Regions from separate parts of the Homo sapiens genome. Here regions 2, 3 and 4 are each linked to region 1. Evidence: fine-mapped expression QTL. A gene starts in region 1. Each other region holds a variant in brackets. All regions are shown on one strand. Distances are from middle to middle. Region 1 holds the start of RBP7 (retinol binding protein 7). Region 2 has its middle 12 kb from the start of UBE4B. Region 3 holds the start of PGD (phosphogluconate dehydrogenase). Region 4 overlaps CTNNBIP1 (catenin beta interacting protein 1).

Evidence for each region.
Region 2: its variant is fine-mapped to the expression of RBP7 in whole blood (TOPMed, PIP 0.95).
Region 3: its variant is fine-mapped to the expression of RBP7 in whole blood (TOPMed, PIP above 0.99).
Region 4: its variant is fine-mapped to the expression of RBP7 in whole blood (TOPMed, PIP above 0.99).

Annotation. Positions count from the first base shown.
Region 1 is chr1:9,995,042-9,999,201 of GRCh38, forward strand. RBP7 (retinol binding protein 7) reads left to right here and starts at 2,187. Exons shown (of 4, transcript NM_052960.3): 1 at 2,187-2,290. The coding sequence starts at 2,218. LOC124903840 (basic salivary proline-rich protein 2-like) reads right to left here and starts at 3,048. Exons shown (of 2, transcript XM_047436754.1): 1 at 2,641-3,048; 2 at 1,678-1,811. The coding sequence starts at 2,989. The coding sequence ends at 1,678. It also overlaps a transcript of NMNAT1 not described here. RefSeq lists a silencer at 3,936-4,136.
Region 2 is chr1:10,019,281-10,023,440 of GRCh38, forward strand. No RefSeq gene overlaps it. Among named protein-coding and RNA genes, the nearest start is that of UBE4B, 12 kb to the right of the region's middle. The variant T/C (reference allele first, on the strand shown) is at 2,444.
Region 3 is chr1:10,397,010-10,401,169 of GRCh38, forward strand. PGD (phosphogluconate dehydrogenase) reads left to right here and starts at 2,055. Exons shown (of 13, transcript NM_002631.4): 1 at 2,055-2,116; 2 at 2,620-2,695; 3 at 3,384-3,563. The coding sequence starts at 2,109. RefSeq lists an enhancer at 1,443-1,752 and silencers at 2,233-2,552, 2,645-2,821. The variant C/T (reference allele first, on the strand shown) is at 2,205.
Region 4 is chr1:9,868,567-9,872,726 of GRCh38, forward strand. CTNNBIP1 (catenin beta interacting protein 1) reads right to left here. Exons shown (of 6, transcript NM_020248.3): 4 at 3,403-3,522; 5 at 2,621-2,711. The coding sequence starts at 3,498. Among named protein-coding and RNA genes, the nearest start is that of CTNNBIP1-AS1, 22 kb to the left of the region's middle. RefSeq lists enhancers at 2,788-3,716, 3,717-4,160. The variant C/T (reference allele first, on the strand shown) is at 2,035.

The DNA of each region.
Region 1 (4,160 bases):
ACGGACTGCTAGCTTTTATTATATTTGAGTCTGGAACTCATGGGAGAGGTCATAAATTGACATATAAATCTTGAGCTGGACACAGTGGCTTACACCTGTAATCCCAGCACTTTGGGAGGCCAAGGTTGGAGGGTTGCTTGAGCCTAGGAGTTTGAGACCAACCGCCGGCAACACAGGGATACTCCATCTCTATAAAAAATTAAAAAAATTAGTCAGGCATGGTGGCACATGCCTGTAGTTGTAGCTACTTAGAAGGCTGAGGCAGGAAGATCACTTGAACTCAGGAGGTTGAGGCTACAGTGAACCATGATCATACCACTGCACTCCAGCCTAGGCAACAGAGCAAGACTCTATCTCAAAAAATAGTCAGTCTGGGTGTGGTGGCTCATGCCTGTAATTCCAGCACTTTGGGAAGCTTAGGTGGGTGGATCTTTTAAGGTTGGGAGTTCGAGACCTACCTGGCCAACATGGTGAAACTCCACCTCTTCTAAAATATATAAAAATTAGCCAGGCATGGTGGCAGGTACCTGTAATCCCAGCTACTCAGGAGGCTGAGGCAGGAGAGTTGCTTGAACCCAAGAGGCGGAGGTTGCAGTGAGCCAAGATTGCACCATTGCACTCCAGCCTAGGCGACAGAGTGAGAGTCTGTCTCAAAAAATAAAATAGAATAAAATAAAATAAAAAGAATAAATGAAAAAATAAATACCGCGGGTGCGGTGGCTCACACCTATAATCCCAGCACTTTGGGAGGCTGAGGCAGGCGAATCACGAGGTCAGGAGCTCAAGACCAGCCTAGCCAACATGATGAAACCCCCATCTCCACTAAAAATACAAAAAATTAGTTGGGCATGGTGATGGGCACCTGTGATCCCAGCTACTCGGGAGGCTGAGGCAGGAGAATCACTTGAACCTGGGAGGCGGAGGTTGCAGTGAGCCGAGATGGAACCACTGCCCTCCAGCCCGGGGCGATAGAGTGAGACTCCCTCTCTGCCGGGCGCAGTGGCTCAGGCCTGTAATCCCAGCACTTTGGGAGGCCAAGGCGGGCGGATCACAAGGTCATGAGATCGAGACCATCCTGGCTAACACGGTGAAACCCCGTCTCTAATAAAAATATAAAAAGTTAGCCGGGCGTGTTGGCGGGCGCCTGTAGTCCCAGCTACTCGGGAGGCTGAGGCAGGAGAATGGCGTGAACCCCGGAGGCGGAGCTTGCAGTGAGCCGAGATCTCTCCACTGCACTCCAGCCTGGGCACAGAGCGAGACTCCGTCTCAAAAAAAAAAAAAAAAAGAAAAAAGAAAGAGTGAGACTCTGTCTCAAAAGAAAAAAAATAAAAATAAAATCAATAAGTCAGTCTTGGAGCCAGCATATCTAGGCGGTGTTTGTGGCTAATGTTGTAGGTTAGCCCATATTCCCACCCCTTCTCCTTTGCTTTTCTCTGCTCTGAGGCTAAATGCTGCAGACTAGAATCCCCAGGCCCCCTTGCAGTTAGAAGTGGCATTGATACAGTTTTGGCTAATGAAATGTACACAGAAACCTGCTGGGTAATTTCTTTTCTTTTTTCCAACTATCCAGACTTATAGGAGATGGGGAGGTTTGTGCTGCAGGGATACTGACCTTTGGTGCTTTCCCTCTTCCCTACCTTGAATGTGGATGTCCTGGCTGGGAACCCAGCTGCCAGCTCATGACCAGGAGGTAACAAGCAGGAATAAAAGGCCACCAGAGTCACAGAGACGAAGCTGCGGCGTTACCGAGGTGCGAATCACTGTGATTCCTAGGTGCGAATCATCACCAGCAATCACTTCTCTCAGGACTCCTTGTTAAGAAAAATAAACTCCTATTTATTGAGACCATGAGAGTTACGTTGAGAGGTATATTGTTATTGAAGCTGACAATATTCAATGCCATGAGTTTGAAGATCATCCCTGGGTCATTAACATATAAGCAGGGAAGAAAATGTGGCCCGAAACAGTCTGGGACATGAGAAAGCAGTAGGAGAGGAAGCCCCAAGGAAAGGGGGAAGCTGCCGCGCGGTGGGCAGAGCCAGGAGCACCGGGCTGAGGCGGCCGGGAGCGCAGCGGCTTCTAGGGGTGAGTGGGACCCACGCGGCCCCACCTGCTCCTCCCGCGCGCGGCCCCACCCCCCTGCCCCGCCCCGCCTGGTTTATAGGTCCCGGCCCGAGCCTCCGGCCGCCCGCCGGGTTTGTCCCGCGATCCCCGACCATGCCCGCCGACCTCAGCGGTACTTGGACCCTGCTCAGCAGCGACAACTTCGAGGGCTACATGCTGGCCCTAGGTAAGGCGGAGGGGAGGCGGCGGCGGCGCGAGGCTCGCCGTGGGTCTCGGGATCAGGCGAAGGCGGCCGGGCCGGGCCTGTAGGTACGTCCTCTGTCCGTGCCTCCGCCCTGCTGCGCCCACCGTCGCCCAGTCGCCCCCGAGTCCGCTGGTCCTTGGCGCCTCCGTCCATCGGGCGCGGGACCCCAGTCCTTCAGTCCCCCAGTCCGTCCTTTCCCGCGCCCACCCGCCCCCCTGTCCCCACGGCCGTCTCTCCACGCCCTCTGTTCCCCCGGCCGTCGGTCCCCCACCCGTCCGTCCCTGAGTGCCCGCGTCCAGCCCCACGTCCGTCTCTACCCGCACGCGGCACACCTGCGGAGACTGCAGACTCGGGGTCCGGCCGGGGAGGGGGGTCCGGCCGGGGAGGGGGCGCCCGGGACCGAAGCCTCTGCCCGGCCACCCTCCCCGCAGCCGCCTTCCGTGCAGGCCCCGGGGCCCCGGGCGCGCTCCCGCAGCGAAGTCCCAGCAGCCTCGGCGCACCCGGAGCGGGTCGGGGATGCAGAATCCTGGAGCCAGCGGACGACCCTTCAGGTCCGGGCACCCGCGGGAGTGCAGAGCCTGGTTCGGCCCGGGGCGTGCCCCGACCGCCGCCTCCCACGAGGGCTGGGTGCCCGCGGCGTTCTTGCTCCCGGGGGCCCCGCGCTGTGCTTCCCGCCCTCATCGCGGTGCCAACGGTGCGCGGACTCTCAACTCACTGCAACCTCCGCCTCCTCGGTTCAAGCGATTCTCCTGCCACAGCCTTCCAAGTAGCTGGGATTACACGCGTGCGCCAGCCACCACGTCCGGCTAATTTTGTACTTTTAGTAGAGAAGGGGTTTCACTATATTGGTCAGGCTGGTGTCCAACTCCTGACCTCAGGTGATCCACCCGCCTTGGCCTCCCAAAGTGCTGGGATTACAGGTGTGAGCCACGCGCCCTGCCACGAGTGTAGTTTTTCTTGTAGCTTTAGGAATCTGGGAAGTTGCCGTGCCGGCCAATCCCTGAACCCTTGACCCGTGGGCAATTTTTGTTTTCTTTTTTTCTTTCTTTCTTTCTTTCTTTTTTTTTTTTTTTTTTGAGACGGAGTCTCGCTCTGTTGCCCAGGCTGGAGTGCAGTAGTACGATCTCGGCTCACTGCAAGCTCCGCCTACCGGGTTCACGCCATTTTCCTGCCTCAGCCTCTCCGAGTAGCTGGGACTATAGGCGCCCGCCACCACGCCCAGCTAATTTTTGTATTTTTTAGTAGAAACGGGGTTTCACCATGTTGGCCAGGCTGGTCTCGAACATCTGCCCTCGTGATCTGCCCACCTTGGCCTCCCAAAGTGCTGGGATTACAGGCGTGAGGCACCGCACCGGCCAATTTTTGTTTTCTTAACCTTAGGGCCCATCTTAGTTGATAAAGGGGCATTTATTTTGCTCTTTCATATCCCAAGAGATAAGAGTGTTCCTCTGGGTATGGGAAAAGCACCTCTCACTTGAGAGTCTTATGATCTTCTTCAGAGGAAGAGCAGAGAATTCTTTTATGGCCTGCTTCAGGGAAGAGGGGCAAAAGAAGGTCTGAGGGGGACCTTCCTGCTACTGTTATTTCCTCAAATGCCAAGTGATATGGTTTGGCTGTGTCCCCACCCAAATCTCATGGGAGTTGTAGTTCCCATAATTCTCATGTGTTGTGGGAGGGACCTGAGGAGAGGTAATTGAATCATGGGGTAGTTTTCCCCACACTGTTCTGGTGGTAGTGAATGTCTCATGAGATTTGATGGTTTTACAAGGGGTTTCCCCTTTCATTTGGCTCTCATTCTCTCTTGCCTGCCACCATGTAAGACGTGCCTTTTGCCTTCTGCCATGATTTTGAG
Region 2 (4,160 bases), 24 kb after region 1:
TCTGTCACCCAGGCTGGAGTACAGTGGCGTGATCTCGGCTCACTGCAACCTCTGCCTCCCAGGTTCATGCCATTCTCCTGCCTCAGCCTCCCGAGTAGCTGGGACTACAGGCACCCGCCACCACGCCCGGCTAATTTTTTGTATTTTTAGTAGAGACAGTGTTTCACTATGTTAGCCAGGATGGTCTCAATCTCCTGACCTCGTGATCTGCCCGCCTCGGCCTCCCAAAGTGCTGGGATTACAGGCGTGAGCCACCGCACCTGGCCCTTGTTAAATTCTTTGTTCAAAATGCCAAAAACCTGGACACCCTCCACTGGTACTGAAGCTCACTGAACCTCCTTGTTCAGGAGTTTTCATAGAGCTCCATCTCCAGCCCCCTTCCCTCCCAGGAGGTTGGGGTGGGGCTGTTTCCACCCTCTAATCAAAGTCCTCTAATTTGGTCTTTCTGGTGAGCAGCCCCAACCCTGAGTCACATCATTAGCATAGACTCTGGTGTGTTCTAAAGGGGCTCCTTATGAATAGCAAAAGACAATCCTATCACTCAGGAAATTCCAAGGAATTTAGGAGCCCTGTGCCAGAACCAGGGAAAAAGACCAAATATATATTTCATTAAACTTTACTACATGATACAAACTACAGTTTGGAAAGACATTTAGGAATGGTAGAACAAAACAAGTGAGAAAATATAATATGTAAAAGGTCTTTTTGTCATTTCAAAATACAAGAGGTAGCTGGGCATGGTGGCTCACACCTGTAATCCTAGCATTTTGGGAGGCTGAGGCAGGAGGATCCCTTGAGCCCAGGAGTTGGAGACCAGCCTGAACAACATACTGAGACCCCGTCTCTACAAAAAATAGAAAATTAGTTGGGTGTGGTGGTCCATGCCTGTAGTCCCAGCTACTCCAGAGGCTGAGGTGAGGGGATAGCTTAAGCCAGGAAGTTGAGGCTGCAGTGAGCCAAGATTGTGCCAGTGCACTCCAGACTGGACAACAGAGCAAGACCCTGTCTCAGGGGGCTGGCCACGCATGGTGACACATCCCTGTAGTCTGAGGAGCTCAAGGTTGCAACAGTGAGCCATGATCGCACCATTCCACTTCATCCTGGGCAACAGAGCAAAACCCTATCTCTATGAAAAAAAAAAAAAAGCAAGAGGCTATCTTCTCTGAGGTTTACTATAGTTAACTTTTACAAGTATTTAATCATAATTGCTTAGATTGAATTCGGTTCAGTATATATTCCTGGAAGTTCACTATTATTATTATTACTAGGTCCTGAGAATATGAAACAACCATAAAAATGAGTGATGAATTCAATATATATTATTCTGACACTGAGAAGTATTGTAACAAAAAACAAGTTTCTAGGTCATACCAAAAGCCGGGCAAAGTGGCAGATTCCTGTAATCCCAGCTACTCAGGAGGCTGAGGGGGGAGGATTGCTTGAACCCGGGAGGCAGAGGTTGCAGTGAGCAGAGATAGCGCCATGCCATTGCACTCCAGCCTGGGCAACAAGAGTGAAACTCCATCTCAAAAAAAAAAAAATCCTTTCATGAAATTACTACCAGATGTTGGCCCTTCAGCACAACCAGCTTGGAAGCTTCATCCTTAGCAAAGAAAGATCTTCAAAGCAGGCACTTCCATGATCCACATACTTTGGATGCCCTTAAAGGGGGGGAAAAAGGGAGAGGAAGGGAGGAGAGGAAGAGGAGGAGAAATAGCATTTCAATTCTGCTTTAATATATATATATTTTTTGAGACAGAGTCTCACTCTGTCATCCAGGCTGGAGTGCAGTGGTGCAATCTCCGCTCACTGCAACCTCCACCTCCCGGGTTTAAGTGATTCTCCTGCCTCAGCCTCCCTAGTAGCTGGGATTACAAGTGTGCACCACCACCATGGCCAGCTAATTTTTGTATTTTTAGTATTTTTGTATTTTTGTTTCGCCATGTTGGTTGGGCTGGTCTCCAACTCCTGGCCTCAAGTGATCCACCCACCTCAGCCTACCAAAATGCTCGGATTACAAGTGTGGCCCCTTGTAATAAAAATTTAATTTTTTGGAATATGACTCTTGGAGTTTTTCTTTTTCTTTTTTTACTTTTGGACTCTGTTGGACTTGAGTTGTTTTTCTTTAATGGCTTTATTGAGGTATATTTTATGTACCATAAAATGCACCTAAGTGTACAATTTGATAATTTCTAGTAAATGTACATAGGTGTACAACCATTCCTACAATCCAGTTTCAGAACAAGTCAATCACTCCAAAAAGTTCCCTAGAGACCATGTGCTGACAACTATTATTTTATAGGCTTTTCTTTTTCTTTTTCTTTTTTTTCTATTTCTGTTTGAGACAGAGTCTCTTTCTGTCACCCAGGGTGGAGTGGAGTGGCACAATCTCAGCTCACTGCAACCTCTGTCTCCTGGGTTCAAGGGATTCTCCTGCCTCAGC[T/C]TCCCAAGTAGCTGGGATTACAGGCACTTGCCACCACGCGCAGCTAATTTTTGCATTTTGAGTAGACAGGGGGTTTCACCATGTTGGCAAGGCTGGTCTCGAACTCCTGACCTCAGGTGATCTGCCCACCTTGGCCTGCTGGAGGTATGTGACAAACTGATGGCAAATGGATTATGCCCCCAATGGACAGTGTTCTCAAACCGTGATCTGAGGACCCGGGGATCCCGAGACCTTTTAAGGGTATCTGTGAGATCAAAGCTATTTTCATAATAATCCTGAGATGATATTTGCTCTTCATTCTCTCTCTCTCATGAGCATATGGGAGTTTTCCAGAGACTTCCTGCCAGGCCACATCACAACTGACCTGACCCAGAAGTACATCTGAGAATTCAGCTGTCTTCTATTAAGCCAGACATTAAAGAGATTTGCAAAAATGTCAAACAAGGCCACTCTGCATGTAATAGGCTTATCTTAAAAATGAATTAATATGTCTCTTGGTTGCCGTTTCTAATACAATCCATCTGCCTCGGCCTCCCAAAGTCCTGAGATTATAGGTATGAGCCGCTGCACCCGGCCTAGCCTTTTCATATGGAGTCTCAGACAGTGAAATTCAGTCAATATATTTATAATGAATACTTTATTTTTTGAGATGGAGTCTTGCTCTTGTCACCCAGGCTGGAGTGCAATGGCGTGATCTTGGCTCACTGCAACCTCCGCCTCCCAGGCTCAAGCGATTCTCCTGTCTCAGCCTCCTGAGTAGCTGGAATTACAGGCATGGGCCACCACGCCCGGCTAATTTTTGTGTATTTAGTAGAGATGGGGGTTTCACTATGTTGGCCAGGCTGGTCTCGAACTCCTGACCTCATGATCCACCTGCCTCAGCCTCCCAAAGTGCTGGAATTACAGGCGTGAGCCACTGTGCCTGGCCTATAATGAATACTTTTTAATATTCTCTTTGTTTCTGTCCACAGCAAGAATCTTTATTTCCTGAGACCTTTTGTAGCAGATTATTTTCCCTCAGTTTCTTGCCCTTAAGAGTCTTCGGTTCTCCACAGATAAGAGTTTTGCTTTTGATATTTCCTCGACCTGCTCATAAGGATTTCATTATAACTTCTGGGTGCAATCTTTAGGAGAGTTTGCAAAACAGTCTTTTTTTTTTTTGTAATGGAGTTTCGCTCCGTCACCCAGGCTGAAGTGCAGTGGTGCAATCTTGGCTCACTGCAACCTCCGCCTCCAGGGTTCAAGGGATTCTTGTGCCCCAGCCTCCCAAGTAGTTGGGATTACAGGCGCCCGCCACCACACCTGGCTAATTGTTGTATTTTTAGTAGAGATGGGGTTTTACCATGTTGCCCAGGCTGATCTCAACTCCTTTTTTTTTGAGACAGAGTCTCGCTCTGTTGCCCAGGCTGGAGTATAGTGGCATGATCTCGGCTCACTGCAACCTCTGCCTCCCGGGTTCAAGCGATTCTCTTGCCTTGGCCTCCTGAGTAGCTGGGACTACGGGCACATGCCATCATGCCCGGCTAATTTTTGCATTTTTAGTAGGGACGGGGTTTCACCATGTCGGCCAGGATGGTCTTGATCTCCTGACCTCGTGATCTGTCTGCCTCAGCCTCCCAAAGTGCTGGGATTACAGGCGTGAGCCACCTCACCCAGCCAAGTTAGTATGTGTTTAAAGATCACACTTGTAATCCTAGCACTTTGGGAGGCTGATGTA
Region 3 (4,160 bases), 400 kb after region 1:
CCAAATGTCTATCAACAGATAAATGGATAAGCAAATGATGACACAATTGCATTAATGGAATACCACTCAGCAATGAAAAGGAACAAACCACTCATACCTACAACACAGATGAGCCTCAGAAACGTGATGCTAAGTGAAAGAAGCCAGACCAAAAAAATTATATGCTATTATTCCATTTCTATGAAATTTCTGGAAAAGGCAAAAACCATGCAAAGTAGATCAGAGGTTGGCTGGGGGTGAGAGCAGAGACTGACTACAAATAGGCCCAAGGGAACGTTTTGGGGTGATGGAAGTTTTCTATAAGTGGATTATGGTGATGGCTACACAACAGTATAAATTAAAGGTCATCCAAATGTGTACTTACAATGTTTGAATTGTATGACATGTAAATTATCTCATTAAATCTGTATTTTAAAAAAAGAACTGTGCTGTGAAGTTTGACATATTTTAAAGTAGGATGTCTTAGCCGGGCATGGTGTTGCATGCCTGTAGTCCTAGCTACTCAGGAAGTTGAGGCTAGAAGATTGCTCGACCTCAGGAGTTCAAGGCTGCAGTAAGCTATGGTCATGCCACTGCACTCCAGCCTGGGCAACAGAGCAAAGACCTGGTCTTTATAAAAATTAAAAACCGGCCGGGCACAGTGGCTCACACCTCTAATCCCAGAACTTTGGGAGGCTGAGGTGGGTGGATCACTTGAGGTTAGGAGTTCGAGACCAGCCTGGCCAACATGGTGAAACCCTGTCTCTACTAAAAATAAAAACATTAGCTGGGCATGGTGGCACACACCTGTAGTCCCAGCTACTTGGGAGGCTGAGGCAGGAGAATCGCTTGAACCTGGGAGGTGGAGGTTGCAGTGAGCCCAGATCGCGCCACTGCCCTCCAGCCTGGAGACACAGCCAGACTCCATCTCAACAATGACATCAAAAAAAGGCCGGGCACGGTGGCTCACGCCGGTAATCTCAGCACTTTGGGAGGCCAAGGCGGGCGGATCACGAGGTCAGGAGTTTGAGACCAGCCTGGCCAAGATGGTGAAACCCCATCTCTACTAAAAATACAAAAATTAGCTGGGCGTGGTGGCGGGCGCCTGTAATCCCAGCTACTTGGGAGGCTGAGGCAGGAAAATTGCTTGAACCCGGGAGGCGGAAGGTGCAGTGAGCTGAGATCACACCACTGCATTCCAGCCCGGGCGACAGTGCGAGACTCCGTCTCAAAAAAAACAAAAAAAATCTAAAACTCAAACTTCTGAATAACAATTTCCTCCTAGCAAGAAGGGACTCAGTAAGATAAGAAGCGCTGCTTGGCTACTTTGCAAATGTCTGGCTTAAGATGGCTGGTTTTTTGTATCTGCCTCTGCATTTAACCTGGTCCATCTCGCGGGTCACATAGCCTCTACAAAATGAGAAGGGGTTCAATACCGTTAACTCCGGGCCTGGGTAAAAGACTCAAGTCCTGACCCCATCATACTCCAACCAATACATACCCCGCCTGCGCTGTCTGCGCCTGGGTCTCTTCAACCGCAGTGAGCGGTCGCACGGCTCCACATCAGGGTCGCCCTGAGGCTCAGCCTTCCCCGGCCCCATTCCGAGTGCGCACAGGACTGAACGAGCACGCCCGGTCCCTGCTCCGGAGCGGAGGACACGACGCGGACCCGCACGGTGCACCGCAGTGACCTGAGGAAGGAGCGACGGGCGCTCGCGCCAAAGGCGTCCGAGTGCCTGGTAAACTGTAAAGCGCGGTCCTGCGTGAGTTGCTATGGCTACAGCTGCGCCAGGCGGACGGCCTGCAGGACCGAGGTGCAGCTGGGACGAGCGGAAAGCTCTGCGCGTGGGCGGGGAGCCCGGAGCCTCGCCGGGGCAATGTCATCTAGGTGCTCGGCGCTCCACTGATCCGGCCCCCGGGGGTGGGCGGGCACGTTTGCCTCGGATGGTCTAACAGGCGTCGGGGAGAGCCAATGGTGTGGCTTCATGGCTCCACCCCCTTCCATTCGATTGGCCGGCGCCGAAAAGCCGGGCGTGAGCGGCCGCAGTTTCTGGAGGGAGCCGCTGCGGGTCTTTCCCTCACTCGTCCTCCGCGCGTCGCCGCTCTTCGGTTCTGCTCTGTCCGCCGCCATGGCCCAGTGAGTGACTCGCCAGGGGCAGCCCGGCTCGGCCTCAGCGGGCGGGGAACTCTTTGGGGGTCGAGATCTCCCTCGTTCTCTCCGACGC[C/T]TCCCACCCTGGGGGTCGCCTGAGCTCACTTGGGGCTCTGTGACCCTGGCCCTACGGCGTCTCGGGCCCAGAGCTCCTTCCCTGCGGGCCCGGCCCCCTGCCCTCTCGGCCGCGCAGGCATGGGGCGGGGCGGGTCCCTTCGAGGGCCAGGGAGGAGGCGCGGCCAGGCCTCGCCGAGTCTGCAGGGACACCTGCGGGACGCGTGCCAGCGGGAGCCGGGCGCGAGGGCGGGGCTGGGGGCCGCCTGCCCGGCCGAGGCTCTGCAGCGTGCGCGCCCGGCTTCTGGGGGCCCGCGGGAGGCGCGGAGGAAAGTGCAGACTCCCAGTCACGGCCAAATGTGGAAGGACCGGACCCCTGGGTTGCAGCGCGTCGAGCGGTGCTGACTCTTTCCTTTGTTCTGTTTCTGCCTCTCTAGAGCTGACATCGCGCTGATCGGATTGGCCGTCATGGGCCAGAACTTAATTCTGAACATGAATGACCACGGCTTTGTGGTAAGCGGCGTGGGCGCGTTGTCTTCTCTCTGGTTCCCGGGCGCTTTAGCCGAGGCCGGCGATAGGTTTGGGAGCTTACGGGTCTCCTGGCCGTGCTTTGCTAATGTGCTCTGTTGCTGCTCGTGGCATTTTTGTATGGAAAGGAGAAGCACCCTGTAGGCGTGGGCGGGCCGATCCCGAACTTAGTCCTGCGGAGTGTGCCTGTGGGTCCGTGAGGTTCACAGCCCGAATGAACGAATTAGTGTCTTAAGTAGAGAAGAAGGGTGCGGGAGGAGAACCCTTGCTGGCTGTGTAGAGCTCTAACTTGATTGCCTGATGAGATCTGGGGAGAGTGAAAATGTTTCTTCTAAATGTTAAAGTGGCTTAGACGCCAGGATGATCAATAACAACAGATAGAGCCTGTTGAACCGGCCAGTTCCTGGATTTGATTTTGAGTCCTAACACGTTGGGTGTGGATTCTACCTGACACACCGGGGGTAGTTGGCCTTCGCCTCGGTTGTCCGCCGTTTTCATCCTACTGAGGTGACATAACTTTACAGTGAGCCTCCCACAGCTGGGGGAAGAAAAGGCAAAGGCAGGTCTGACCTCCCCAGAACTTGGGTTGAATGGAAAGGTCATTGTTACTTTGGCCACAGTCTGAAAGTCTTGTGTGTCCTGGATCTCCTACTCAGGACTTTTGTCCTTCTAGGTCTGTGCTTTTAATAGGACTGTCTCCAAAGTTGATGATTTCTTGGCCAATGAGGCAAAGGGAACCAAAGTGGTGGGTGCCCAGTCCCTGAAAGAGATGGTCTCCAAGCTGAAGAAGCCCCGGCGGATCATCCTCCTGGTGAAGGCTGGGCAAGCTGTGGATGATTTCATCGAGAAATTGGTGAGGCCAGCTGTGCTCTCAGCTGCTACCACGATAGCAGCTGTTTTTGGTTTCTTCCTTTAGTTCTCCTTCTTTTAACTCTAGAGATTTTTTTTTTTCAATTTCTGCTAAGCTCTGACCAAATGATTGCTTAACTGTTGCAGTGTTGGTTAACTTGATAAGCGCTTATGAAGTAACTTTGTCCTTTGGTGGTAGTAATTCTGAGAATACTAACAGACATTTCAATAAACATTAAGGCGGGGCACAGTGGCTCAGGCCTGTAATCCCAGCACTTTTTGGGAGGCTGGTTCAGATGGATCGTTTGAGCCCAGGAGTTCGAGACCAGCCTGGGCAACATGGCGAAACCCTGTCTCTACATAAAATTAAAAAATTAGCTGGGTATGGTGGTGTAAGCTTATGGTCCCAGCTACAAGCTTATGGTCCCAGGTTCGAGACCAGCCTGGCCAACATGGTGAAACCCCGTCTCTACTAAAAATATAAAAATTAGCTGGGCTTTGTGGCTCATGCCTGTAATCCCAGTTACTCGGGAGGCTGAGGAATGAGAATCACTTGAACCTGGGAGGTGGAGGTTACAGTGACCTGAGATTGTGCCACTCC
Region 4 (4,160 bases), 130 kb before region 1:
TACAAAAATGTGTGACTTGGAAAGTTAAAGTTTCTTATATAGTCCTATCCCCTAACAATTATTATTATTATTATTTTTTGAGACAGAGTCTAGCTCTGTTGCCCAGGCTGGAGTAAAGTGGTGTGATCTTGGCTCATCGCAAGCTCCGCCTCCCAGATTCAAGCGGTTCTCCTGCCTTAATCTCCCAAGTAGCTGGGTAGCTGGGACTACTGGCACCTGCCACCATGCTCAGCTAATTTTTGTATTTTTAATAGAGACAGGATGTTGCCATGTTGGCCAGGCTGGTCTTGAACTCCTGGCCTCAGGTGATCTGCCCACCTTGGCCTCCCAAAGTGCTGGGATTACAGGCATGAACCACCACGCCCAGCACCCCTTGTCAAAAACAAAATTTCTGACAGTCTGGTATATATTCCACCAGCTTCTTTGTCTTTTAAAAATTTTTTAAATTTATGAGACAGAGTCTCCCTCTGTTGCCCAGGCTGGGGTGCAGTGGTGCGATCATGGCTCACTGCAGCATCAACCTCCTGGGCTCAAGCGATCCTCTCACCTCAGCCTCCCTAGTAGCTAGGACTACAGACGTGTGCCACCACAGCCAGCTAGTTTTTGTATTTTTTGTAGCGAGAGGGTCTCCCTATGTTGCCCAGGCTGGTCTTGAGCTCCTGGGCTCAAGCAATCCTCTTGCCATGGCCTCTCAAAGTGCTGGGATGACAGGCGTGAGCCACTGCACCTGGCCACCAGCTTTTTTTTCTATGTGCATATACAGCTTGTGTCTTGTGTGTATGTGTGTTGTTGCTGGGGTTTTGTTTTGTTTTGTTTTGTTTTTTGAGACGGAGTCTTGCTCTGCTGCCCAGGCTGGAGTGCAGCGGTGAGATCTTGGCTTCCCAAGTAGCTGGGATTACACCTGCATGCTACCATGCCCAGCTAACTTTTGTATTTTTAGTAGAGATGGGGTTTCGCCACGTTGGTCAGGCTGGTCTAGAACTCCTGACCTCAGGTGATCCACCTGCCTTGGCCTCCCAAAATGCTGGGATTACAGCTGTGAGCCACCGTACCCGGCCTGTTGCTGCTTTTTATACTGACATATGGTCCTACATTTTGATGTCTCCTATTTTGATTTTTTCCCAAGAGTATTCAACTGGAGGCTTTCTTACCATCCGAGCTCAAATTCAGGTTAACTCAGTGACCAAGACTAAGTGGGAAGGAAGGTGAGTCTCCAGGGACTCAGAAGCCTGAAGGTTTCAGGTTGACATGAGTCAGAAGCCATGGTAGAGGGTGCCATGCTAGAAACCCAGATTAGCCCTGGAAGAGAAGAGACCTCACCCAAGAGATCCCAGGATGGGGCGGGAGCCGACGCCACATAGAACAGGCTGCCGCATGATCCAGGAGGCACACCTGGGCAGACACACCCAGGCAGGTTGTGCGTGGTGAGCTGCTGTCCCAGGGAGCTGCCTGAGCCACTGCCTGGAAGGTTTCTGCTGAGTTGGGTGCACAAGCCAGGTCACACCCAGCATCGGTGCTTGGGAACAGGCCCCTGTGCCAGGACAGAGCCCTAAGACATCCAGGAGAACAAGGGCTGGCTGGTGATCTAGGTCAGGCCCCGCATGCCAGCCTCAAAGCACAGCAAACGCAGCCGTCAGCACTCTGCTTTCGGGGGCCCGCTCGCGTCTGGACATGCCACAGGTTGTAATATTTCATGGCCAATCATTCCAACAAAGCATAAAGAGAATAAAAGGAAAGGACTCTATGGAGATGCTGGTCAGAATACTAGGCCTCTGTGTCATGAGAAGCCTTCTAGAGAAGGAGAACCTTGCTGAGCAGCCAAGGGACATGGAGCTGTCCAGTAGCCATGTGGGTTATGGGCAAGATGGCAGACAGTGAAGCGCTCCTCAGCCACAGGTGTACATCCCGGGACTCCCCAGTAACCACCTGGCTGCATGACCAAGTGGCTTACTGTTCCCAAATCCCAGTTTCCTTGCCTGTTAAGTGGAAGTATTAATAATACAAATAGTAGCTACCTACAATAGAATGAAACAA[C/T]GGTGCCTGCTACACAACAAACACTCACATCCTGCCTGTTACCATGCTGACTTGTTGAGGTCACCCCAAAAAGACAGAACTCCCTCAGGCGCACGGAGACATCAGGCCTTTGGGGCATTCCTCCTGGCCACAGCCAGGACCACACCAGCCACAATGTGGTCTGTGCTCAGGACAACAGTGACAGCATTGTTCTAGCACACAAGGGCAGTTTCTCTCTCCTGGACAGGGTGCTGGGTGGGTAGGGGTCAGGCCAAAGGTTAAAGAAATGCAATAATCAGTCTCTGCAGTTATGAGCGCCCCCAGACATCTCCATTTCCTGCCTCTTCCAGGCCTTAGAAAGGGATCCTGCCATTTGTCTTGTAGAGTCTTTGGCTCCCACCTGAGGAAGGAGATGGGATCAGGTGGGAGGCTCCGAAGGTTTCCTGGCTCAGCTCTGTGGGTGGAGAGAGCTGTAGCCCCTCCTAGTCAGCCCTGGGTCTCATGGATCACCCATCAAAGAGGGCTGGAGCTACGCTTTCTAAGGGAACCACAAGTCGGTGCCCCTGGGACTTGTGCCACTGCCCCAGCCCCTCTGCCGCCAACTCACCCTGGTCGATGGAGTGCGGAGGCAGCTGGCTGAGCTGGCTGTTGACCACCCCTGCATAGGTGCGCAGGAACTCCTCCTCGCTGGCTGTCAGCTGCAGGGTGAGAGAGCTGTGGTGAGGGGCAGCATGCACCTGTTCCCTGAAAGGCACCTGCACCCCTAGAGGCACCGCCTAGGCCTGCTTGGTCCCTGCTTGGTCCCTGCTCGGGCTTCTGTTTCTGAGATTTGACCCCTTTGCTTTCAGGGCCAGCCCACCCCACTCCCACCCTCCTTAAACTTGGTCCAGGGGTCCAAAGCCTTTGCCACTCAGACTGAATCTGAGATTAAGGTCTGTTCTAGTATAGGGCCAGTGGAAGACACAAGTCCTGCCCGGAAGGCTGAGGGGCGATTCCATGTCCCTCCACTCTTTTTGAGAAATACCCCTGCACATGCATGCCTGCTGCCCCCTCAGCTCCTGTCCTGACAAGTTGTCCCTGAGCTGCCCCCTGGGAGAGAAGACTTTCGGGCTTGTGAGGGGGAGAAAAGGAAGGTCAGGGCCTTGAGACCCTCACCCGCCTGGCCCCAATCCGGCAGTGTCGGGTGTCCCCAGAACTTGACGTGCTGGGCTCTGTGCCTAGGGGGCCAGAAGCAGCCCTAGAGCCAAGCCACAGGCCCAGCGGCCCCTCCTCAGCCCGTGGCTCCGCAGGAGGCAGCCGCAGTGGCTCCACCCTCCAATAGCCCAGCAGGGCCCCTCCCTGGGAGACCCTCCCTGGGGGCCCGCTGCCTGACACCCCACAGGCACTCACGTTTGATCCCATCTTCCGCAGCATGAGCAGCACTCGGACCTTCTGCTGAATGTACATCTCCTCCGGACTCTTCCCGGGAGCTCCCTCGCGGTTCATCCCCCTGCCTGGCTCTGGGGACTCCTGCAGAGCAAGCAACAGCATCAAAAGGGAAGAGATCAGGATGTGACATACTGGGACAATGACACCTGCTAGTGACCCTCACTCCTCCCAGGAGCCGCTTTCCACCCACAGTCTCCCTTCTGGGAGCATGGGGCAGGTGGCGAGGTGCTGGGTTCCTTTCTCACCCATGCTGGTCCCAGCAGGCTGAACTGAGCAGCTCTGTTCTCCAGCAGGCGCTGCAAGGGCTGGCCTGCCTGCTGCCTCTGTGCATGAAGCTGCTGCGTCCAGGAAAACTGAGATGACCTGGACTGCTGGTTGTTTCTACCTGTGAATCACCCCAGAGCAAAGCTCCTGCTACAAGCCACAGGACACGTGGTGCATGAAGCCCCAAATGTCCCAGGTTTTCAGAACAACTTCCACAAGGGGCAAAAAAGTGATGGGATCAGAGGCAACTGGTTAGGGCCTTTGGCTCGAGAAACTGTGAGATCAGTGCCCAGCCCCCAAACACTGAGACAGCTCCCTCGGCAAAAGCCCCTGACAAGTTTAAGAGGCCAGGGTTGTGGCTCCTGGGCTGGGCTCCAAGGGGTCCCTTGATGGAAAGACGCTGGCCCAGGGTTGCAGGGCTTGCTACCTCAGCCCTCACAAACCCACCCCACCTG